Regions from separate parts of the Homo sapiens genome. Here regions 2 and 3 are each linked to region 1. The links come from fine-mapping of genetic effects on gene expression. A gene starts in region 1. Each other region holds a variant in brackets. All regions are shown on one strand. Distances are from middle to middle.

Region 1 (8,000 bases):
AGGAAGGAAGGAAGGAGAGGGAGGGAGGGAAGGAAGGAAGAAAGGAGGGAGGGAGGGAGGGAAGGAAGGAAGAAAGGAGGGAGGGAGGGAGAGAAGGAAGAAGAAGGAGGGAGGGAGGGAGAGAAGGAAGAAGAAGGAGGGAGGGAGGGAAGGAAGGAAGGAGGGAGGAAAGGAAGGAAAGTATGAAGGAAGGAAGGAAGGAAGGGAGGAAGGAAAAAAGAGAGAGAAAGGATGTATGGGAACCTATAGATTTGAAGAAATTTAAAAGAGCCTTGGCCAGGCACAGTGGCTCACGCCCGTAATCTCAGCACTTTGTGAGGCCAAGGTGGGTGGATCACTTGAGGTCAGGAGTTTGAGACCAGCCTGGCCAACATGGTGAAACCCCTGGGCATGGTGGCACGTGCCTGTAGGCTGAGGCAGGAGAATTGCTTGAATCTGGGAGGTGGAGGTGGCAGTGAGCCGAGATCATGGCACTGCACTCCAACCCGGGTGACAGAGCGAGACTCTGTCTCAAAAAAAAAAAAAAAAAAAGCCCTATAAATCATCAATCAGTTGCAATGTGTGTATCTTCTTTGTATCTTGAGTCAAACAAATACACTGTAAAAATATGTATGTTTATGAGAAATTGGTAATTTGAACACTAGAAGTTTGATATTAAGGAATTTTATTGATGATGTTAATAGCTGAACGTGTTATGTGATTATGTTAAAAAGAGTCATTATCATTTAAAGATACACACTGAAATATTGATGGATGAAATTAATCAGGAGGGGTACAGATGAAACTAGACTGGCCATGAGTTGATAATTGTTGAAGCCAGGTGACAGATACACGGGGGCTTATTATAGTATGCTGCAAATTTTTCAAACTAAGAAGTTTAAAGACCCTGTGACCTCCCTTCCCACCCCTAGGCCCAATAGACAGAAGGTGCTGTGTGTTACAAGCAGCAGGTTGCAATCCAGACAGCTCTGAGTGGGAAGGTCCTCTGATGGCTGAGGGGCCTGAGAAGGGTTTCTGGGGACTTTCTGGCTTGTGGGACAGTCCCTGGCTCCCTTGAATTGGGCAGGGAGGATCTGATGGGGAAGTAGCTGCAGCTTTTCATTAAGGAAGGCTGGCCTCTGTGGGCCTGGTGACACTGGGGCCAGGCACTGCTACCTTAAGACAGCTGAGTGGGTGGCTCCAAAAATAGCCAGGGGGACGGCAGGGGGCGGGGAGTCACATGGAGAAGCTCAGGGGTGAGGCTGGGCAGGTGCCCAGGGGGTTGGCACTTCTGCCTGCTCCCCCAGAACCCTTGGGCTCTTCCTCTGCCTCCAGAACCTTTCTTCCTCCCTCCCTCTGTCTCTGAGAAGACAGAGAGATGGCCAGGTGATGCTGGGACAAATACTGCCTTGCCTGAGGGGACGCTGACTCTGGAATTTGGTGGCTCTCCAGGGATGAGCGGGTCAGTCAGGTGGAGAGAGAGAGAGGAAGGGACAAGGACTGCGTAACCTGCCTACCAGTCACCCCATCTGCAGGCCAACACCTGTGCCCTTAGGCTGGACCCAAGTGATCCTTGCCTGGGGTATTTTGTTGTCCTTTTGAGGCCCTGGAGGAGAGGTCACACAGGCACCAAGGATTTGGGAACCCTGGCAGCCATAGGTCCCCGCCCCCTTCTCAGGGCACCTGGGGAGAGTGCCCCTGTGCCTGCCCTAAGTGAGAGACCTGGGGAGAGGACACCGCGCCCCATCGCCCCTGGACTGAGATCCTTTGGCAGAGGCAAGAAGGAAGGGGAAGCAGGGCCGGGCAAGTACATCAGCAGCACAGTCATCGACTGAGCCAGGCACTGGGCTAAGCCGTCCACATGCATTCTACTCATCAGCAATGTGGCCTTGGGGAAGGTATACACCCCTGTGCCTCAGTTTTATCATCTGTTAAATGGGCACAGTAATAATACCTGCCTCATGGAACTGCTGAGGAGATGGAATGAGGTAATATAGGTAGATATATGTAAGATTCTCAGCACAGTAGCTGGCAGCGCTAGCTGGTATTACCCACTGGCAGGTGACCTCCATGTGGGCAGAGGTTTGCTTATCTTTGCAATTTCAATGTCTGATACATAGCAGGTGTTTCATAAATATGCGCTGCATTCATTACTTTGTGGAGTCCTCACAATGATGCCAAGAGGCAAGCACTATTCTTGCCAGTTTATAGTTGTGGAAATGGGCTAGAGGGCAAATGGTGCACTCAAGGCCTCATCCCCAGCAAGTGGCCAAGGTGGCCCACCTCCAGGCCTCCAAGTCTATGCGCCGAATGAACCCTGACTCCATGGGCCAGAGAGGGTGCCTCCTCCGCTCACCTGTCTCTAGCTGGCTGGTCCTGTCCAGGGCTTGCTAGACCTCCACGCTGAAGTGCTTGGACTGGGGATAAAGGCTGGGTGGATGGCACCTACGTTTGCTGTTAAGGAAGCTGCCGCCAGCCAGCTACACCTACTAGTTACCAGGCCCTGTGCCAGGCCCAAGGATACAAACGTGACAAGATCCTAGTCTTCGAGGAGCTTGGAGCAGTCTGTGTGATTGTGTTGTGCCCAGGAAAGCACGCAGGGGCTAAGGGGACACCCAGCTTGGCCTAGCAGAAGAAGGGAGGTCAGAAAGGCTTCAGAGAGGAGAGGACATCTGTGCAGAGTCTGGAAAGGTGACTGGAAGGTTGCTGCTTGAATGAAGGTGGGAAGGGAACTGCAGGCAGAGGCAATAGCCTGGACGACGGCTTGGAGACTTGAGAGAGTCTGCCAAGCTAGGCAGGAGCGGAGTGAGGCTGAGCAGGGGCCTGGGGTTGGAAGGGTAGGGGCAGAGGATGGGATTCTAGACCAGCTGACCAGGTTCAGGACAGGCCAGAAAGCCACCAACTGGGGATGAGCTGGGAACTCAGGGGCCATGAGAACCATTAGAGTTTTAAGGGAGGATGGAGGTGGCCTGGTTGGTGGTTTAAAAAACACTGTGGCCACTGGAGGGGACGGTTGGAGGGACAATGAGTGCGAGGAGGGTGTCTATCCCAGATTTGGTGCATGCTCCAGGCGGGGAGGGGAGGCTGACGCTGGGACCCAGCTGCCCCGAGCCACCTCCCTCCTTCCCTCCTCTCCTCCCTGCCCCCTGTCTCTGTCACTCACCGGGCGGGCCAGGCCGGGCAGCCATGGCTGAGACACTCTTCTGGACTCCTCTCCTCGTGGGCAAGTTGGGGCCTTGTTCAGCGGGGAGGCCCAGGATGAGGGGGCAGGATTTAGGGGTGGTAAGACGGAGGTGTGGAGGGCCCACAGAAGAGGGATCTGGGTTGGGTGAGGCAGGCGCCAGAAGGGCTTTGGGGTGTTAATGCCATGGCCAGCTGGGGATCCAGGGAATGGGGCTGGGAGCTGGGCTCTGGGATGAAGGGGCTGGGAGCTCTGAGGGCTGGAGGTGTCCTAGGGCCCGGGTGGGTCTGACAGCACAGGCCCAAAGGGTCGTGGGCCCTTTAATGAGCTGGCTGGGCCGCAGCTTCTAAGCCCAGGCTAAATTTGGCCCTGGGAGGGAGGGTGGAGCTGGCGGCCAGGTCCTCTGCTCCTCTCTTGGACTTAGGATTCCTTTTGCTCAGCTCCTACTGGCCTCTAGGGCAGGCCTTCTTCTTCCCTGTATTTTAGGGGAGGAAGGTGGGGGTCTCCAGGCCCAGAATGGCTACCCTTCCTCCTCTGTAGGCTCCTGGCCCCGTCTTCCTCTCCTCTGGGCTCTTGGGCATTTAGCATGGGATTCTTTTCCCAGTGCCTTTCACACATACACACCCTCACACACACACACACCCACACACACCCTCACACACACCCTCACGGCACCCTCACACACACACCCTCACACACACCCTCACACACCCTCACACACCCTCACACACACACCCTCACACACCCTCACACACCCTCACACACACACCCTCACACACACCGTCACACACACACCCCACACACCGTCACACACACCCCCCACACACACCCCCACATACCCCCACATACCCCCACACACCCCCCGCAAACACACACCCCCCACACACACCTTCACACACACACACCCTCACACACACCCTCTCACACACACTCACTTGCACACACACCCTCACACACATCCTCACAGACCCTCACACATACCTTCACACACACACCCCCCCACATCCCCTCACACACACACACACCCTCACACACACACTTCCCAGTCAAACATCAGTCCCTGCCCACTGCACCATTAATAGGGGCCTAAAACAAGGAATGGAAAGGTTGTGGGAGAGGTTCTCCCTCGAATCCCGAAACCCAGACGATTAAAATGTCTAGCCCAGCAGGGCTTGCTCCCCCATCCCCACCCCAATCCCTTCCTGGGAGGCAGCAAAGGAAGCGCTTCTCTCGGTCCCTTAGGGGCTCCAAGGACTTGGTGGGGAAGGGAGCTTATCCCCTGCCCAGGACTGAGGCTGGCCTGTGTGTTTGGGACTTGTGGGGTCCCCACAGTTCTCCTGGCAGGGCTGGGGGACACCGAGGCCCAGCAGACCACGCTACACCCACTTGTGGGCCGTGTCTTTGTGCACACCTTGGACCATGAGACGTTTCTGAGCCTTCCTGAGCATGTCGGTGAGCGGCCTGACAGGCACCCAGGCGGGCGGGCTGGGGTGTACCCCGCAGGGCTCCTGCTGTGACTCGAATCCCCTCTCCTCGCTTCCACCAGCTGTCCCACCCGCTGTCCACATCACCTACCACGCCCACCTCCAGGGACACCCAGACCTGCCCCGGTGGCTCCGCTACACCCAGCGCAGCCCCCACCACCCTGGCTTCCTCTACGGCTCTGCCACCCCAGAAGATCGTGGGCTCCAGGTCATTGAGGTGCCGTCAGGGACCCTGAGAAAATCACAGGGGTGGGCCAGAGTGGCCTCCTAGGAGCAGCCCTATGAATTGGGATTGGGTGCTCATTCACAGTCATTTACATATAATTTACATACCTCTAATTTGGTATCTGAGTCCTCTCCTGCCAGGCCCCCGCTGTGCCACGTTTCTCCCCTAACCCACTTCTCAGATGTCTTTCCCATCCCCCAGGTCACAGCCTACAATCGGGACAGCTTTGATACCACTCGGCAGAGGCTGGTGCTGGAGATTGGGGACCCAGAAGGTACCTCTAGCTGTGCCCCATCCCTTCCCCACCAATGCCAGTCTTGGGGAATCTCTCCCGGAGGGGGAGGGGGCTGTGGACAGGAGAGGCTTGGAGAGGAGTGGAGCAGGGCATCCTGGAAAGTGGGGACAAGGCTCTCAGGGAATGGGTGCTGGGCTGGGATTCCAGGCTCTGGAGTTCTGTTACTCGCTGCGTTGCAGAGACTATTGGGACTTGGCTTGTTGGGGTCTGTGATGGATGGGGCATTGAGGGGCCTGAAGGGGTGTGCAGGGATGTGGGGAGGAGCTTCAAGGAGGCTTTGCGGGGCAGAGCTGGGGCTGGGTGCAGCCTGAGGTGTCCACCTGGCCTTCCCAGGCCCCCTGCTGCCATACCAAGCCGAGTTCCTGGTGCGCAGCCACGATGCGGAGGAGGTGCTGCCCTCAACACCTGCCAGCCGCTTCCTCTCAGCCTTGGGGGGACTCTGGGAGCCCGGAGAGCTTCAGCTGCTCAACGTCACCTCTGCCTTGGACCGTGGGGGCCGTGTCCCCCTTCCCATTGAGGGCCGAAAAGAAGGGTAGGTGTGCAACCCTAGAGGACTTCCTGAAAGAGGAGGATGCAGCTTGTGGCGGGCATAGAACAAGGGTCTCCCTAATTTCCAGGTGGGGCTTTACCACGCACATCTCCACCTCCCAGCTTCACACCCCTCACCACTCTCCTCTGGCTATACCCGCATCTCCTTGTCCTTCCAGAGCCTAGACCCTAGTTACCCTGAACTCTGTACTTCCTGGTGCCTCATGAGGACGTACCAGATACATCCATTAAAAGACATTCCTTAGTAGGGAGGGTAAGACCCCCTAGAAGAATGGGGTGCCCTGTGTACTCTCACCATGATCTCAGATCTCTGGGAGGACTGTGACTCCTGCCAGACCCCAGCTGTGCCATGTTCCTCCCTTAATCCTCCCTCTTAGGCGTCTCCCTCATCCCATCCCCAGGTCATAGCCTACAATTAGGAAAGTTTCAACAACCCCTGGCAGAGTGGTGCCTCGTGCCCCCTGCCCCCACTCTGCTGACAGTGACTTCTATCTGGTCCCAGGGTATACATTAAGGTGGGTTCTGCCTCACCTTTTTCTACTTGCCTGAAGATGGTGGCATCCCCCGATAGCCACGCCCGCTGTGCCCAGGGCCAGCCTCCACTTCTGTCTTGCTACGACACCTTGGCACCCCACTTCCGCGTTGACTGGTGCAATGTGACCCTGGTGAGGAGGGACCCTGGGTCCGGGGGTGGGGTGGGGCATGGCCCCCATCCCAGTCCCCCTTCCCTCCCATGCTGCTTCCTATCTCCGTCTCTCTGATTGCTCCAGTCACCATTTCTTTCCCTGATGCTCTCAGTATTGCCCACAGGCTTAGTCTGAGGATACACACACACACACACACACACACACACACACCCCTGAAGTTCTACCTTTCCCCCACAAGAGGGCAACAGAGTCCGCAATCCGCATGTGGGGTCTCCAACTCCCGCGCCCCAGATCTGCCCAGGTCAACAGCTATATCACAGTCCAGTTCCCAAACCCTTTCCCTACCAAGGGCCTCTGCGTGACAGCTCTGTCTGCTTTTCTGTAAGGTGCCACCTAGCAAACCCACTTACAACAAGGATCTGATAGCTCTTCACACTATAAACCAAAGATGCTCACAACAGCTCTTTGGATACTGAGCTGAGGTTCACAGGATCCCACGGCTGGTGTACACTGTTCCTGTGAATTGACCAACAGAGCAGGGACTCATTCAGGGTCCACAGCCAGCGACTGGTAATTGACAACATTCTTGAGCACTTGCTATGTGCTTGGCACTGTCCCATCAACATATTTTATGCTCACCACCACTCCAGGAGACAGGTGCTACTATTATCCTTCTGACATTACAGGTGATGAAACAGAGGCACATAATCATCCTAGCTAAGCACTTGTCTGAGTCTGGATTCAAACCAGGAGGTCAGACCCTAGAGCTGTGCGCTAACCAGTGCACTGTCCCGCCTCTGCTGGACTTTGTGTCTCCTGCCTCCTAGTCCTGGCCCCTGCCATGTTCCTGGGGACCTCTGTGTCCAGCCAGCCACTTCCTGCGTCAGCCCTGAGCTCTCTGTGCAGGTGGATAAGTCAGTGCCGGAGCCTGCAGATGAGGTGCCCACCCCAGGTGATGGGATCCTGGAGCATGACCCGTTCTTCTGCCCACCCACTGAGGCCCCAGACCGTGACTTCTTGGTGGATGCTCTGGTCACCCTCCTGGTGCCCCTGCTGGTGGCCCTGCTTCTCACCTTGCTGCTGGCCTATGTCATGTGCTGCCGGCGGGAGGGAAGGTGAATGTGGGCATGAAGGGCGGGGGAGCACCTGCTGGAGCTCACACCCATGGGACTCACAGTGGCACTTGTGCTGTATGGGACCCAGACACCATGGGAATGGGGTTCTCAGGCACAAAAGGAGTGTGGGGCCCCTTTCTAGGCAACTTGGGGCTTGAGACCTGCCTGGCCTGGCACCAGGAGGGCATTGTGGATAATTGCACACAGACCTCCACTCACATTGGAGCCCTGGGGCACCTTGGGGCGAAACCCAGAGCTGGGCTAACCCTCTCCTTCACTTTTCCACAGGCTGAAGAGAGACCTGGCTACCTCCGAGTGAGTAAAGGAAAGCTGGGGGTGGGGTGGGAGCCCACCTAGACAGTTGTTGGACCCCGCCACCAAACTATGCCATGAACAGCAGAGACAAAATAAATAACTCCAGGGTGATGCTCACCCCTTCCCTTGACCTCTGTAATCCCAGCACTTTGGGAGGCTGAGGTGGGAGGATTGGTTGAGCCTGGAAGTTTGAGGCCAGCCTGGGCAAC
Region 2 (8,000 bases), 23 kb before region 1:
GTAATGCTTCATCTAGCCACCAGGGGGCGACCACGCGGCCAGCCAGGCAGGGACTCCCTACCTCCTCGTCATCCTCCCCATACTGGGCGTATCTCTGCTCCATCATCTCCCGCTGCCATCGCTCCTGTTCCAAAGTCTGCTGAATTAGCTGGGCCACTTCGCTCTGCTCTCCCGGCCGCTCCCGGCCAATCATAAACCTGCAGGGGCACCGGCATCATCCGCTGCCTCTGTCCTCAGCCAGGTAATGCATCATCCTCCCTGCTGATGCTCCCCTCTCCAAACTCAGGCCCTCCCAGGGGAGGAGAGATGAGAGGGCTGAGTCCGAAGGCTGCAGTGTTAATAATGAATGGGGGAATGAGGGCCCTTATCAGGTTTCCTTCCCAAGGGAGGCAGGAAGGCCCATTCACCCCTCTGGCCAGTATTGCGGGAGGGAGAATGTCAGCCCACCTCTAGGCTGTGCTGCAGGGGACATGCACTGAGGAGGCTCTTCCCCTGCCACAGGGGAGAAAATGAGGCAGGGAAAGGTGAAGATGACCCTCCCAGCAGGGATGGGCTGCGGAGGTGTTTCTTGGGTATGCTCCAAGCCCCTGAGCTTCAGGAAGGGGCGGGATGATGGCAACTGGAGATTAGGATGGAGAGGAAATAGTGGAACTTCCAGGCACCAGCCCCTCCTCCCGGTGGCCACCCACATCCTGTTTCTCTCCACCACCCTTTCCTGGGGGTAGTACCCCTCTTGCAGGGGGGCAGGGAGTGATCCCTGAATGTTAAGCCAAAGGTAGAGTGGACACAGGGAGCTTCTGATCCAGTCCCCTTGGTTACAGGCCTGGGGCGGAGTCTTCCCAGGATGACATAGGGCTGGTCGGGGTGGGGGGCATGAGGTCCCAATGAGGGGACCCCAATATGGTTAGCATTCACCCTGGACGTCCTGGTTCTTCAGTCAGTGAGTCAGGGACAGGTAGGGGGAAGGAGAAGAAGCCCTAGAGGACAGTTTGGAGGGCTGGTGGACAGTGGGCCAGGAAGGCTGAGTACTGGTGGCCAGCTGTTGCCAGGGAGCTGGGATGAGAAGGCAGGTGTGAGGCGAGGGACTCCAGGCACAGCAACTCCTGCAGCCAAGGAGTCAGCAGAACCTCTGTGAGCTGGGCCACCAGAACCTTAACTGGCTGTTAAGGCAGGTGAACGGAGTGCCTGGACGAGGACCTCCTGCCCGCTCCCACGCCCCACCCCTCTGGGCTCTCACCGCACTCGGCCCTTGGTGTTCCGGAGCACAGACGCCGCGAAGCTCTGGGTCACTCCCACCAGACTTGTTCCATCCACCTCCACCAGGAGATCATTCACCTGGATCCTAGCGGAGTGACATTGGTTAAGGGGTCACAGGGGAACCGAGGAGCGAGGGTAGAGGTAGCCTCCTCCCATCAGAAACTCCAGGCTCCCCAGCCTGAGTACATAGTGAGAACTCATCTCTACAAACAATAAAAAGAAAAATTAGCTGGGCATGGTGGCACGTGCCTGTAGTCCCAGTTACTTGGGAGGATGAAGTGGGAGGATCACTTGAGCCAGGGAGGTCAAGGCTGCAGTGAGCTGTGTTTGCGCCACTGCACTCCAGCCTGGGCAACAGAGTAAGACCCTGCCTCAAAAAAAAAAAAAAACAAAAAAAAACAAGAAAAGAAAACAACAACAAAAAACCTCACAGATACTTTGTCCTCACAGGGACCTGGTACTTTGTCTACCTGCGTAACATTCACAAGGCCAGAGGATTAAGTGTCAGCCAGGCCCACCTGTGTGGGCAGTGAGAGCCAGGCAAGCAAAGCAGACACAGGCGTCCAGGACCAGGAGACGCGGCAGGCACACTTCCTGTGACAATCACACTCTTGTCCCCTCCTTCATCATACTTGACTGAGCGGTGTGACATTCTCAGAGTTCATCTCTGCCATGCACACTGGCCAGGAGCCCCACAGCACACAAGTGACATGCCACCCTCTTACGTGTACATTTCTGCACAGAACTGAGTGCACAGATGTCCTCCCAAGTCCCCAAGACCGAATGGCACTCTCTCGAGTTCACACACTGTCCCACACACACCTGATACAGGTGCACCTGCCGACACACTCCAGTTGTGTCCCCTGAAGCCCGTGTTCTCCATACAAGGGGAGGTTCAGTCTGGCCTGCTGAGGGAGATGGAGGGTGGGGGGCCTCTCAGACACCTCCCTCCTCCACTCCACCTCCCTGGGAGCTCCAGGCCTTCTCTCAGGACTCCCACACGGAAATGGAGGAAATGGCCTATTGTCAACAGCTCACCCCAACACATGCCACTCCCAGGTGGGCATGAGTGAGTGGCCACGGCCACCATGCACACTCACTCCTTAGACAACCCACAGGCAACAATGGGAAAGGCTCTGGAAGTTCACATTGGGAGGGGAAGGGGTAAATGAAAGGGTATCCTGTTCCCGGCCCCTCTCCATGCCACCTGGGCCACAACAGGTAGAAGCCCCTTGACAGGGCAGCCCCATCTCTAGAAACAAGATCCCAAAGTCACCCAGATCCCAAAGGACACCTGCTCACCTCTGTCACATGGAGGGGGTCTGGGTTTGGAGGTACCACCACAAGAGATCCCCAATGTCACCTCTAACTTACAGCCACCCTGGGGGATGCCCTACAGCCCTTCCTACTGCCACTCCCCACACCCCTGGAATACACAGCTAACACAGGGGTCCCTGGCTGGCACACAGCTCCAGGATGCCCTCCCTGAACCTTCTGTCCCACAGAACTCACCCCTTGCAACCACAGATGCTCAATACAGGCACACACACTCACATGCGCAAAGACAGCCTGTCTCCAGAGCCACTGCCATCAATGGGTCTAGTCACAGCCTCCTGGCCCCTGCTCTCTATGCCCCAGCCACACCTGCCTGCTCATGGCGCCACTGCCTGGAACCTCTGCACTCACTCCCTCAGCACAGCTAACTCCTGCTCCAGCCTTAGCTCTCAGCTCCAGCACTGCTTCCTCCAGGAAGCCTTCCCTAATGCCCAGAGAGATTAAACCCTCCTGTTGTATGCCTTCACAGCAGTCTGCATTTCCCTCCATTTCACTACCTTTTGTGTGTCCATTTATTCAATGTCTACCTCACACCACACTGCACACTTCTCAAGTGCGCCAGGCCCTCACCATTGACTTCCCAGGGCCCAGCACCGGCCCAACACTGTCAGAGACTCAATGTCCAGCGAAAAAAAAGCTCAAATATACTCCATGCCTGTCTTCTCCCTACCAGGGCCCAAACTGTACTCCAGACCGGGATGCACAACACACGCCTATAGCCCCCATGGTCACCAGCCCCTCCTGGAGAACACACGCTCCTTCAGGGCATAGGGGCTGACAGTGCTCACTGTTGTATTTCTGGGGCCTGGAACAGCACCTGGCATGGCAGTGCTCCCCGAACATCTCAGCTGCACACACAGCACGGAAATCTCCCAGGGAAGGCCCGCCCCACCCCCTGCTCAGTGGCCCACCCCACCAAGGATGGCCGGTCGGAGAGGGAAAAAGGGTCAGGCGAGACTGGGGAGGATTGGTACCTGCCATCCCGATGGGCCGCACCACCCTCCGTCACGGTCTTGACGAAGATACCCAGCTTCTCCAGGCCCATGTCTGCCCCGGCGCCCATGCCGATGATGCTGATGCCCAGGCCCTCGGAGTCTGTGGAACAGAGAGTGGTGAGATGGCAGGGCTTGTAGGGGACAGACGAGAGACTCTCCACCCCGAATTCCAGGGCACAGCCCCCCCATCAGGAAGCAGTCCCCATTAGGGGATGTCCCACAACTGAAGAAGGGATATAGTTCTGTCCACCGTCTTTGCCAAGTCTACTAGGATGGCTCCTGAGCCGCTCCCTGCCCTTTGTCCCTTCCAAAGAACCAATGGGCAGAAGAGCGTGCCAAGGGTGGCACAGGCAGGTAAGACTGTTGCATATGCAGACCAGGGCGTGTGGCCAGGATGGGGGTAGCCAGGATGGGGGTAGCCAGGATGGGACTCAGCCCTAAGCCTTTGGTCTTCTCCCTCTCAGCCAGTCTCATCTGTACTCATAGCTTCAAGGACCAAAGACCTCCAGATTTTCTCTCCCCTGAGGTCCATTCCCCTATCCACACCTGCCCCTGCCTGACTCATGGCCCTCTGATGTCCCAACTAATGACCTTCCCCCACAAACACTCCCTCATGGGGGATGGTACCACCACCTGCCACCTGCCAGACCTGGGAGGCACCTGGATTCCTCCCTCCCACTCACAGCCTCCACCTGAGCCAAATGACCCCCAGATGCTATGGATTCTACCCCTGGAGATCTTTCCAGTCCACCCACACCCGCTCTGCCATCTTCCTGTCCACGCCACAGTGGCCTTTCTCCATCCACTTGTGACCCCCTCCCTACATCACAGCCTGGTGTGGTCTTTCTAGACCTTTCCTGTGCTTCGAAATGGCTCCCAATCCATCTTAGCAACAAGACCACGTGGTCTGCAAGGCCTCATTTGCATGCTCTTCTTGCCCTCCCTATGCAAATGCAGCCAAGCCCCTTTCCTGACTACTCCCCTAATTCCTCCTCACCAGAGTGCAACTCAAGCTTCACTTCCCTGGAGAATGCCCCCAAGCACAGTCTGGTTAGGTCACCTGTTAAACGCTTTTACAGTGGCCCCTCCTTACCTTCCCCAGCCCCTATTCCAGCGCCTAAGGGTGAGATTAGATGTGACTGTGCCTTCCATGTCTGCCTCCCCCATCCATCTCCCCAGGAGCCCACCACTGTGTCCCCAACACAGAGCCCAGGACCTAGCACACAGTACCCTACAGAGACCTGTTAACTGAATGTGCAAATGTGGTTCCATGACCGGGGTGGTGGGGGTGTGGCTTGGCCTGGGTTGGAGGCCCTGTTTGCTCTGGGTGCTGACAAGGGAGGAG[CGGGGAAG/C]GTCACCAAGGGCCTGAGTCAGAGGGAGAGGCCCAGCAAGTCTGTGGGAGCCCCTGAGGGCACAGGGCAGGAGCTGGTGCCAGAGATGAGACCCGGGTCAACCCCAGCTGTGCGCAAGTGACGTGGCCTCCTGGCCTCTCACCCTTCTCCAGCTCCACAGGGAACAGCTCCAACCTCTCCACACGCTTCTCCAGCTCGTACTCAGCAGAGGCTGCCATGGGATCCACATCCTCGTTGCGACGATCGTAATCCTCGTTGGAGTAAGTGCTGAACACCTGGGGAGGGAGGCAGCTGGTCAGAGAGGCCGGCAGGAGGACAAGTGCAGAACTGGCATGAGGAGGCCGAGGAGGCAGGCTGAGTTACCCACCCCATGCCTCCCCATGATAGCCCTGAGATGAGGCCTCACCCAGTCCCCTGAGACCCCAGCTCTGAGCAAAACAAAGGCCCTTATAGTTCTGGAGCCCAGGGTCAAGACAGAAAGGGACCCAGCCTTGGCAGACCCGCACTGCTATTCTCTCTGTAGCTCCAACCAGCGTGAGCATGGTCTGCCATAGGCACAGAAGGGGAATCCTGGAGAAACGTCCAACTCAGGAACCCAGACACCCAGATAGAGGGAAAGTGAGAGATAGGACCCAGAGAGCCAGACAGGCGAGAGGGGACACAAAGACAGACACAGAGAGGAAGGAACAGGCTGAGCAGAAGAGGGGAAGAGGAGGAGGGGAGAGAGGATGGAGAAGATGCTGGAGAATGCCAGATGGGGAGAGAGGGGGGAGCGGGTGTGAGACAGAAGAGGAGGAGGGGAGCAGGAGGGGTGGAAGGGGAGAGGTACCCAGGACTGGCTCTGACTTGCCGCTCAAGTGGATGTTGGAGCAGGGGAGGGAAGCAGGAAAGACCATCTCTATCCCCGTGGAGAAGAGGCAGGCCCTCCATCCCCAGGAGCCCCTCGGGTGGCAGAAGCAGGGGAAAAAGCTGGGCCTGGCCTTCCCTGCACACCCAGGCCGCTCTCCCTCCACAACTGCAGCTCTCTAAGTTACGCCCCCTGTCCATGTGCTAGGGGGCCCAGGAGACTGAGGAGGGGACAGCCTCTGACACTGCCCACAGCGAACCCAGGCGCCATGGGGCTCCGAGGCCACCCCTGCCTTGGCATCTCCTGTACCCCTCTGTTGTCTCTCTCCAATGTCTCTCAGCAAAAAGAGGAATTCCTCAGCTCTGACTCCCTCAGAAGGACAGAGAAGGTGGGGCTGGGCTCTGTGGGAATGTCTAATTCTGGGCCCAGGCAGGGGTGCCCCCAGTGGGAGGTTAATGAGCACCATTTGGGGTACCATGACATGCTCAAGCTTCATCGCCTGCAGTGACAGGTTGGCACCACTTGGAGCCAGGCGGGGGCGGGGAGGGATGGGGAACAGCTCTATCAGTTGGCTGAGTCTGAGCCCCGAGGAGTCAGACTAGGACCCCATCTCCCCCAAGGGCCCTTGTCAGGGCCCGTCTCCTCCAGGAGCAGACCTTGTGGGCACCCTGGTGGGCAGCAGCACTCTCGTGTCCCAGCCTTTGTCTGGGTTTGCTCCGTGTCGTCCCCACCCCCTACCAGAGAGGCTCACTGCCACAGTGGGAGAGGGAGGGGGTGCTCATAGGACTAGAAGGCTTAGGTGGGAGGGACCCCTCTGGTCACTTAGCTCAATGCCCTCAATTTCACAGCATCAGAGAAACTCTGGCTCCAGCCCTTAAAGCTCATCTGTCCATTGCACCCCTCGAACAAACAGGCTGCCTACCTTGCACATAGTCCAGGGCACCAGGCCCACTGCCCAAGGTCACATGGGTTAAACTGTGGCCAGGCAGAATGAGACTGCACCCAGCTGGGACAGGTGGGTGGGTCACCGGTGACTTGGTTTCCACTGCACACATGCCCCAGGCTCTGGGACAGGGCTGATGTGAGCCTGGACTCAGCAGTGGGATTTGGCCCACTTTGCACTGGAGTCCCCTGACTCTCACCCTCTGCTCTAGGAGACACGGTCCCTTCATCATTGAGTCTCTACAGTCTCCTGAGTCAACGAAACCCCTCCCTGACACACATGGACACACACGCCCGCTGTGACCTCCAAAACACACCTCACAGCCTGTCCTGGGCTGCACCCTGCCCTCTTCTCTCAGCCTATCAAATCCTGTTCCCTTTCTGGTCCTGCCGCCTGCAGGAATCCCAGGCCTGGGCTCAGAGGCCCCAGACCACCTCCTACCCCTCCTCGGGCTGCCCACCATGATATGCCGGTCTAGCAGAGGGCCCTAGGGGAGGTCCCACCTCCCTGAGGCCAAGCTGGAATTGGGTTCTCTGCCCTCAGCAGAGGCCTCCACCTCCAGAAGGGCAACAATTGGGTCATCCATGGGGACCGGGACCCTGGACTTGGCATCAAGGCAGGGGCAGGAAGAAGAAAAAGTGGGGCCCCTGTGCCAGGGTGGGGAGGAGGAAATCCCCAGTGAGGCTGAAAGCCAGCCACACTGGGCCCGCCACACACGCTGGCTCTCACACAGGGCGGGCCAGCTCCAAAGTCACCAGGGAGCCGGGAAGCACTGCTCCAAATCATGTGCTATTTTTTACTGAAAAATCAGGGTAAGGCGTCAAATATAGACAGTCAGAGGCCCAGACCAAACTCCAACTCTGAGGGAATCGGACTTCTCGCAAAATTAGTGGGGGTGGGGTGGGGGGATCCAAACTCTGCTTCAGAGTCCCAAGAAACACTACAGTCCCCCATTCCCTTCAGAACCCCACTGCCTTCAGGAGGGGAAAGGGGTTGGGAGAGGACCCCGCAGGTCCCAGCCCAGGGGAGAGGCTGGCCTGAGAGCCACTCACTTTTAACCTTTCAGGCCTCTTGCTGGGGTGGGAGGTGGGAGAGGGGCAGAGGCTGACATTCTGGGCGAGTGAGAGGAAAGTTGGGAAGCTTCAGAGTCCAGGAGTAGTTATGGAAACGACAAGCAAACAGATGGTGCTTTGGCTAGGGAAGGGTAAAGGCAGGGCAGGGTCCAGGCCAAGGAGAGTCCAGGGACCTGGACACTTCCATGGGGCGGACCT
Region 3 (8,000 bases), 21 kb after region 1:
GCCAGGTCTCCTTCCTTCCCAAGAGCACGGTGCGAGTGCCTTCCCCACAGCTCTCCCAGGTGTCTGTCTCCCTCACTCCCCCAGGGCCAGGACAGCGAGCAGGGAGCACGCCTTCCTCCTGGTCCCTCCCAGACCCTCGCCAGGCTCAGCAGACCCCTCTCCTGTTGCGTTGCTCCTTCGGCAGGAGGTCAGCGTGGGTGAGAAGGGAGCAGAGGCCAGATGACCCTTCATGTCAGTTCAAGGAGAGGCCCCCAGGTCCTCCTCACGGGTTCCACTCCCCTCACCCTCCCAGTATCCATGAGCATCCCACCGCCACCAAGTGCAGGGCATCCAGGGGGTGGAGAGTGGATGGGCTTGAAGGGGAGTGGGTATGAGGTTTGGACAACCCCAGATGTGAAGAGTGTGTGTGTGTGTTGTGCACGTGGATTGCCTGTATGGTATTGCAGGGGAGAAGAGGATTTGGAAAAGGTGCAAGGAAATTGCAAGAATAGAAAATGAAAGAGGAAGTAGAAAGGTTTGCGGTATAAGAAGGGTGAGAGAAAGGGGAGTGGGGTTATGGAGGGATCTAGAAGAGAATAGTGGGGAGGGAAAGGGCAGGAATGGAAGGCAAGCCCATCACCCCAAAGCCCCTTCCCCATGTCTACCCCTCCCCCAACTCCAAAGAAGGAAATTAGGAGGCCACTGCGGATTATGTTTGGGTCATTTCCACATGCTTTATTCCAGCAATCAAAATAATTAAAAACATCTCAAATTATTATACACATACAAAATAGGTACAGAGTCTTTTGCTTCCTCCCACCCCTAGGGGGAAAAACTGCTTTGTGCTTTGGGAAGTTGTCTCTGAAACCCGGGGACAGAGGACGCAGGACAGACTAGGAGGGAGCCGGGAGGATGGGCTGCAGCTGTGGAGGAGGGTTTCAGAGGAGAGAGGTCGGAGAGCAGAGGCCTGAGAAGCCAGAGGCAGGTGGAGAGAGGGTGGAAAGTGAGCAGCGGGCTGGGCTGGAGCCGCACACGCTCTCCTCCCATGTTAAATAGCACCTTTAGAAAAATTCACAAGTCCCCATCCACAAAAAAAAAAAAAAAAAAAGAAAAATATCAAGGAATAAAAATAGACTTTGAACAAAAAGGAACATTTGCTGGCCTGGGGGGGCATCTCAATTTCTATAGCACCAGTGATTCCCTCCCCACCCCACCCATCACATAGATGTAGCACCTTTGGTATAAAATGGGGAGCCGCTTCCACCCTGCCCCCATCCCCGCCCCCAGGCAGTTGCCCCGGTGACACATCAAGACAAGAACGAGGTAGTCTTTCAGCAACACAGTTACACAAGGAACAGAACAGTCTCTCCCGCCCAGCCCTGCGGCACAAGGGATTGACACGCGTTCCCCAAATCCGATGTTTCTGCTTTGTCGTGGCCCTTCCTGACTCTCCTCCGAACCCAGTGAGGGGCTGGTGGCTCCCCCGGCATGACCCCCTCAAAAACGAAGGGGAGATGTTGCAAGAGCCATGGGAGCGCCAGATGGCAAGGCTTCTTTGGCAGTCTGAGAACCCCAGGTCCCCCAGGGCCTGGGGGTGCTGGGCGGGCAGGAGCGGGCTGAGGGTGGGGGCCACTTGGGTGTTTGAGCATTGCCTTTGATTGCTGGGCAGACAATACATTGTTTCCTGTGTCTTCTGGGGAGACAGATTTGGGAAGGAGTGGAGGGGAGGCCCCAAGGGGGGTGTGGAGAAAGGAGCAGAAAGGGCAGCATTGGGGTTTCATAAGCCCAACGGGCAGAAAGGGACTTACCCCCGCATGGGTCTTCAAGCAAGTGGACCAAGCTTCCTTTTTTAAAAAGTTATTTATTTATTCTTTTTTTTTTTTTTTTTTTGGTAAGGTTGAATGCACTTTTGGTTTTTGGTCATGTTCGGTTGGTCAAAGATAAAAACTAAGTTTGAGAGATGAATGCAAAGGAAAAAAATATTTTCCAAAGTCCATGTGAAATTGTCTCCCATTTTTTGGCTTTTGAGGGGGTTCAGTTTGGGTTGCTTGTCTGTTTCCGGGTTGGGGGGAAAGTTGGTTGGGTGGGAGGGAGCCAGGTTGGGATGGAGGGAGTTTACAGGAAGCAGACAGGGCCAACGTCGAAGCCGAATTCCTGGTCTGGGGCACCAACGTCCAAGGGGGCCACATCGATGATGGGCAGGCGGGAGGTCTTGGTGGTTTTGTATTCAATCACTGTCTTGCCCCAGGCTCCGGTGTGACTCTGGGGTGGGGCGGAGACAACGGGAGGGGGCATTACCACGTGGGAGTGATGGAGAGAGGGCACTATGGCCTGGCCAAAAAGCCCAAGGCCGGAGAGGTGGGGCCCTGCCTGGGGATTCTGGGCACTCACCGTGCAGCCATCGACAGTGACGCTGTAGGTGAAGCGGCTGTTGCCCTCGGCGCGGATCTCGATCTCGTTGGAGCCCTGGAGGAGCAGGGCCTTCTTGAGGTTGCCAGTCTGCTGGTCCATGTAGGCCACGCTGTTCTTGCAGTGGTAGGTGATGTTCTGGGAGGCCTCGGTGGACATCAGGCGCAGGAAGGTCAGCTGGATGGCCACATCGGCAGGGTCGGAGCCCTGGCCGCCATACTCGAACTGCAGGGGAGGGGAGAGAGGGAAGAGTGAGCCGCTATGCGGGAACCTCTAGTCCTGCCTGGCCTCCCTGTCCAGGGTCCTCAGAGAGCTGCCCAATGCACCGTTATATCGAGAGGAGGCACCACCTGCCCATCGGCAGCCTGTGTCTGAACCACTATCAGGGACCTGAGACCCCTGCCTCCCAGCCCAGCTCTGTCCATCACCCTTAGCAGAGACCTACTCCAGGACTTCATGTCCCTTCTGAGCACTGGGCTAGCCCATCTCCTAACACTGGCTCTGAGGTCCAGCTCACGCACCTGGAATCCATCGGTCATGCTCTCGCCGAACCAGACATGCCTCTTGTCCTTGGGGTTCTTGCTGATGTACCAGTTCTTCTGGGCCACACTGGGCTGAGTGGGGTACACGCAGGTCTCACCAGTCTCCATGTTGCAGAAGACTTTGATGGCATCCAGGTTGCAGCCTTGGTTGGGGTCAATCCAGTACTCTCCTGTGGTAGGGCAGGGCAAGATGGAGTCAGGGAA[A/G]GGGAGCAGCCAGCACCATATGGTAGGGGCACATATGGGCATGGGGACCCTGGCATGGCAGGAGTAGGAGGGAGGGAGAGGCTAGGGCAGGCCCTCACCACTCTTCCAGTCAGAGTGGCACATCTTGAGGTCACGGCAGGTGCGGGCGGGGTTCTTGCGGCTGCCCTCTGGGCTCCGGATGTTCTCGATCTGCTGGCTCAGGCTCTTGAGGGTGGTGTCCACCTCGAGGTCACGGTCACGAACCACATTGGCATCATCAGCCCGGTAGTAGCGGCCACCATCGTGAGCCTTCTCTTGAGGTGGCTGGGGCAGGAAGCTGAAGTCGAAACCAGCGCTGGGAGGACCAGGGGGACCAGGAGGTCCAGGAGGGCCGGGGGGACCCTGCACAGAGAGGGAAGAGAGTGGGGATTACCGGCATCCAAGTGCTTTGGGGGCTGGAGGGCCATGAGCAGAGGGGATGAGGGGCTACATACAACAGGACCAGCATCACCAGTGCGACCGCGAGGACCAGGGGGCCCAATGGGGCCAGGGAGACCGTTGAGTCCATCTTTGCCAGGAGCACCAGCAGAGCCAGGGGGACCCTGGAGTGGGGGAAATGGTTTGAGAAAGGCTGCCAGAAGCCCGAACAACCCCAGCTCTGGAGGAGAGGCCCACCACCCTCCCTGCTGGCTCTGGCCCCACGGCTCATAGAGCCAGCCTCAGCCTCTTTCCATAGGACATGCCATAGCTCCTCCCAGCCGCTGAGCCAGGGGAGGACGGATTGGGGAGCAGAGAGGCCAAAGCTAGATCAGATTGTTTGTTCAGGATTCTTCCTCTCTTTGCCCACTCCCTGTCCCTGAACCCTTCTCCAGAGAGGCAAAGGGTGCCTGGGTCCCTGGCAAGGGTCCCCGAGGTGAGCCTGGGCTTGGGGCTCAGGAAGAGGAGAGAGAAGGCATGACTTACTCGGGGACCAGCAGGACCAGAGGCTCCAGAGGGACCTTGTTCACCAGGAGAGCCCTGAAGGACAGATAAAAAAGGCAGTTCAGGCCCAGTGAGCGTCAAATGTAGCCTGAGGGCCTGGCTGGAGAGACAAGGGCAGTGTGGGCAACCCATGCCCCTTCATTATTCTGGAAATCTAGCCCGAGGGTGTCCATAGGCAGAGACCTCTCCCATAATCCCTCTCTGTGTACCCCTCACCCTCTCAGAAGCTACTTGGACATGCCCACAAATCTTCAGACCCCAGTCCCCACTAGGGAGGGGAAAGAATGACTATCCAGAGGGGGAAACTGAGGCGAAGCTCCCCCTCCTATCCCACAGCACAGCATGGGGACTGGGGAGGGGCTGAGCATACTTACAGGAGGGCCAGGGGGACCCTGGAGGCCAGAGAAGCCACGGTGACCCTTTATGCCTCTGTCGCCCTGTTCGCCTGTCTCACCCTTGTCACCACGGGGGCCTTGGGGTCCCTAGAAGAGAGAAAGGGACAAACTGTCAGGCGGAAGTTCCATTGGCATCGAGTGGGGCACTGTCTGCATCTGTAGAGTTCTAAAGGCATGGGGGACACAGCAGGGTACTTACGGCGGGGCCACGGGCGCCAACAGGGCCGACAGGACCGGCGGGACCAGCAGGACCCTGGGGAGAGCAAGGAAAGCATGAGCTCTTGGCCAGGGAAGGCTGAGGCTGGGGCTGCAGGATGAGGCCTCCCCTCTGCTGGATCTCTCTCTCCTCAGCTGCTTCCCACTGTGGCCATCTCTCCCAACTCCCAGGGAAACCTCCCCACTGCAATCTTCACGGGAGCTGGGGCCAACTCATGGGAGAGGCGGTCCTGTCTGGGAGAGGGGACTTGGGGCTGAGCTTTAACTCAGTTTTTTGGATTAAGGCCCTGACATCTTGCAGGATCTCCTTTCCTCCCCCTGCCTGGGTGAAGTCCGACACCCATCCCCAGGCCTCTAAGGAGGCCTGAAGAGTCCCTGGCCTGACCAGGTACAGGGAACTGGAGCCCAGCTACTTACAGTCTCACCACGATCACCACTCTTGCCAGCAGGGCCAACGGGGCCAGGGGCACCAGGAGCACCAGGAGCACCAGGGGGTCCAGCGGGGCCGGTCTCACCACGGTCACCCTGGCGGGGAGAGCAGGGGAATATGGGTCAGCCCCGGGTGAAGGGCCAGGATGGGGCAGGGAAGCAGCAGACAAGGCTGTGGTCATGGAGTGTTGCCATCTTACCTTGGCGCCAGGAGAACCGTCTCGTCCAGGGGAACCTTCGGCACCAGGAGCCCCCTGCAGAGAGAGAGAGAGAGAAGTGAGAGTCAGCCGGGGAAGAGGGCTTAGGCAAGGCCACAATGGCCATGCTGAGGGTACTGGCATGGGGGCTGGGGACTGCTCACCTCACGTCCAGATTCACCAGGGGGTCCAGCCAATCCAGGGGGGCCCATGGGACCAGGGGGACCACGTTCACCACTTGCTCCAGAGGGACCTTGTTTGCCAGGTTCACCCTAAGGGAGAAGAAAGAGTCAGGCCAGAGATAGGGTCTGGGAGGACCCTTGAGTCCGCTGGAGTCATCTCTACCAAATCTGTTCTCCTTGGCTCCGCCCCACTCCAAGTCCTGTGATGGTTTTTCTCAGGGCCCCCCAAGGTGAGGGGGGCACTTACAGAGGGGCCAGGAAGACCAGGGAAGCCTCTCTCTCCTCTCTGACCAGGCAGGCCGACCACACCACGCTGTCCAGCAATACCTTGAGGCCCGGGAGTACCAGGAGCACCCTTTGGGAGGCAAACAGGGGTGAGGTGCCAGAGAGCAGCACAGGGACCCCTCCCCAGCTCTGCACACCTCCGGAGCTGCAGAGATCTGAGCTGGCACTTACAGCAGGACCATCAGCACCAGGGGATCCTTTCTCGCCAGCAGGGCCAGGGGGACCAGGGGGACCAACTTCACCAGGACGTCCAGCAGGGCCAGTCTCACCACGGGGACCTTTGCCGCCTTCTTTGCCAGCAGGACCAGGAGGGCCAGGGGGTCCAGCATTTCCCTGGATGAGGATAGGAGGGGCTGTCAGACTCCAGGGGGCTCTGGTGCATCATTGGGTCCTCAGTCAGCCCCACCATCCTTCTGGCAGCCCCCACCCAGCACCCCCAACCTAGAGCAGTGGACTCTGCTGCAGAGACTTACAGAGGGGCCAGGAGGACCGACTCGGCCAGCAGCACCAGGGAAACCAGTAGCACCCTGGAAGGAGAGAACATAGGAACAGTCAGAGGGAGAACAGCCAACTCATCCGACCCAGCTGCCCTCACCTGCCACCGCTGCCTGGGGAGAGGGGAGAGGCTCAACAGAGAGGCGGGTGATACTCACAGGGGGACCAGCGCTGCCGCGAGCACCTTTGGCTCCAGGAGCACCAACATTACCCTGTAGGAGAGCACAGAGGCATCAAGCCTGGACCCGTCCTGGGTCCCAGCCCACCAGCCTCGTGGGCACAGAGGGCCAAGCCACTCACAATGGGGCCAGGGGGTCCAGCGGGTCCGGCAGGGCCAGGGGGACCAGCATCGCCTTTAGCACCAGCATCACCAGGTTCGCCTTTAGCACCAGGTTGGCCGTCAGCACCCTGGGGGAGGAAGCAGGGCGGTGAATGGAGGGAAGGAGGCAGGAGTTTCCACTACCTGGGGGAGGAGCAGTAATGGAGGCAGGAAGATGCTTGGGTGGGAAACAATCCCGTCTCCACCCTTCTCCCCTGAGGATGGCTGACGCCTTTGTCCTCATTCCGTCCCTCGAGGTCCCAGGTCCCAGTCGGTGATGAAAAATGATGGGGGTCTTGGTACTCACAGGGGGGCCAGCAAAGCCAGCAGGGCCGGGGGGACCAGGCTCACCACGGTCTCCCTAGAAGAAAAGGAGTCAGATTGGAGAGATGCGCTGACAGGAGGGAAGGCGGGGATGCGGTGAGGGGAGAGGCAAGGGGTGAAGGCACAGACAGGGCCAGGGGTGCTGTGTGAAGGGAGGGAAGGGCCAAGTATGGGGTCTTAACAGGTCTTCTGTACTTACGGGGGCACCACGAGCTCCAGTGGGACCAGCAGGGCCGCTGGGACCACTTTCACCCTGAGAGCAAGGGACAAGAGGCTCAGGGTCAGGGCCTCCCCTGAATACTCCTAGTAGATGACCCCAGGAGAGCCTCCCCTCCTTCTGGTCCCTCCAGGTTCCCAGGTTGACAGCTCAGTTTGGCAGGACCTGCTCTCCCAACGCAACCCCACGGAACCGTGCCCAGGCCTGCTGAGGAGGCTATGTGTTAGGGCAGAAGGTGGGGAGGCGGCCACCTCACCTTGTCACCAGGGGCACCAGCAGGGCCAGGAGGACCAATGGGGCCAGTCAGACCACGGACGCCATCTTTGCCAGGAGAGCCATCAGCACCTTTGGGACCAGCATCACCCTAAAGACATGGATAAGCTTGAGATTTCCAGTGTGGGGCAAGGAGGTGACCTATAGTGTTCTGCTTGTGTCTGGGTTTCCTGAGAGGCCCTCTGCAGCTCTGCCCTGCCTCCACCTGGGCCAAGGACTCAAAGATTCTTTCAGGAAAAAGGGTGCCTGCCTGGAGACTCAGGTGGAACTGAGGTTAAGAGGCCCCTGACTTGTGTAGCGGGATGAATAAGGGAGCCTCCACCAAGGAGATGCCCCCACCTCTCATCACCATGGTAACCCATGGGGATAGATGGGCCTGGACCACAGGGAGAGGATTCATCAGCAAAAAGGCCAGAGGGGAAAGGGGAAGAAGGGAGGATTAGCGAGAAGAGGGACAGATCCCAGAGAGAAGGAGAGATGCTGAGAGATTCAAAGCAGGCAGAGATGGGAGCCATGTAGGGCTCAGGGGAGGGGGAAGGTTGAACTTACTCTGTCACCCTTAGGCCCTGGAAGA

Alleles and levels. Positions count from the first base shown, and alleles are read on the strand shown. Sizes are in standard deviations (SD) of each study's normalised expression. Not every link is listed here.
For the expression in aorta of the gene that starts at base 3,130 in region 1, A is the low allele of the variant in region 3 and G is the other (small effect, 0.26 SD a copy in GTEx).

What was found.
Region 2: its variant is fine-mapped to the expression of SGCA in whole blood (TOPMed, PIP 0.95).
Region 3: its variant is fine-mapped to the expression of SGCA in aorta (GTEx, PIP 0.97).

The regions. Positions count from the first base shown.
Region 1 is chr17:50,162,876-50,170,875 of GRCh38, forward strand. It overlaps SGCA (sarcoglycan alpha), which reads left to right and starts at 3,130. Exons shown (of 10, transcript NM_000023.4): 1 at 3,130-3,202; 2 at 4,493-4,612; 3 at 4,707-4,861; 4 at 5,072-5,144; 5 at 5,499-5,697; 6 at 6,217-6,379; 7 at 7,268-7,476; 8 at 7,765-7,791. The coding sequence starts at 3,166. LOC105371818 (a long non-coding RNA gene) reads right to left here and starts at 3,482. Exons shown (of 4, transcript XR_934833.3): 1 at 3,143-3,482; 2 at 2,336-2,604. RefSeq lists an enhancer at 724-1,224.
Region 2 is chr17:50,140,032-50,148,031 of GRCh38, forward strand. It overlaps PPP1R9B (protein phosphatase 1 regulatory subunit 9B), which reads right to left. Exons shown (of 10, transcript NM_032595.5): 2 at 5,082-5,214; 3 at 3,567-3,687; 4 at 1,238-1,342; 5 at 62-197. Among named protein-coding and RNA genes, the nearest start is that of PPP1R9B, 6.6 kb to the right of the region's middle. RefSeq lists enhancers at 6,256-6,926, 6,927-7,595. The variant CGGGGAAG/C (reference allele first, on the strand shown) is at 4,933.
Region 3 is chr17:50,183,408-50,191,407 of GRCh38, forward strand. It overlaps COL1A1 (collagen type I alpha 1 chain), which reads right to left. Exons shown (of 51, transcript NM_000088.4): 32 at 7,976-8,000; 33 at 7,410-7,517; 34 at 7,136-7,189; 35 at 6,920-6,973; 36 at 6,594-6,701; 37 at 6,452-6,505; 38 at 6,272-6,325; 39 at 5,970-6,131; 40 at 5,761-5,868; 41 at 5,496-5,603; 42 at 5,335-5,388; 43 at 5,123-5,230; 44 at 4,689-4,742; 45 at 4,469-4,576; 6 more. The coding sequence ends at 2,095. Among named protein-coding and RNA genes, the nearest start is that of COL1A1, 14 kb to the right of the region's middle. RefSeq lists enhancers at 986-1,976, 5,299-5,854, 5,855-6,408. The variant A/G (reference allele first, on the strand shown) is at 3,135.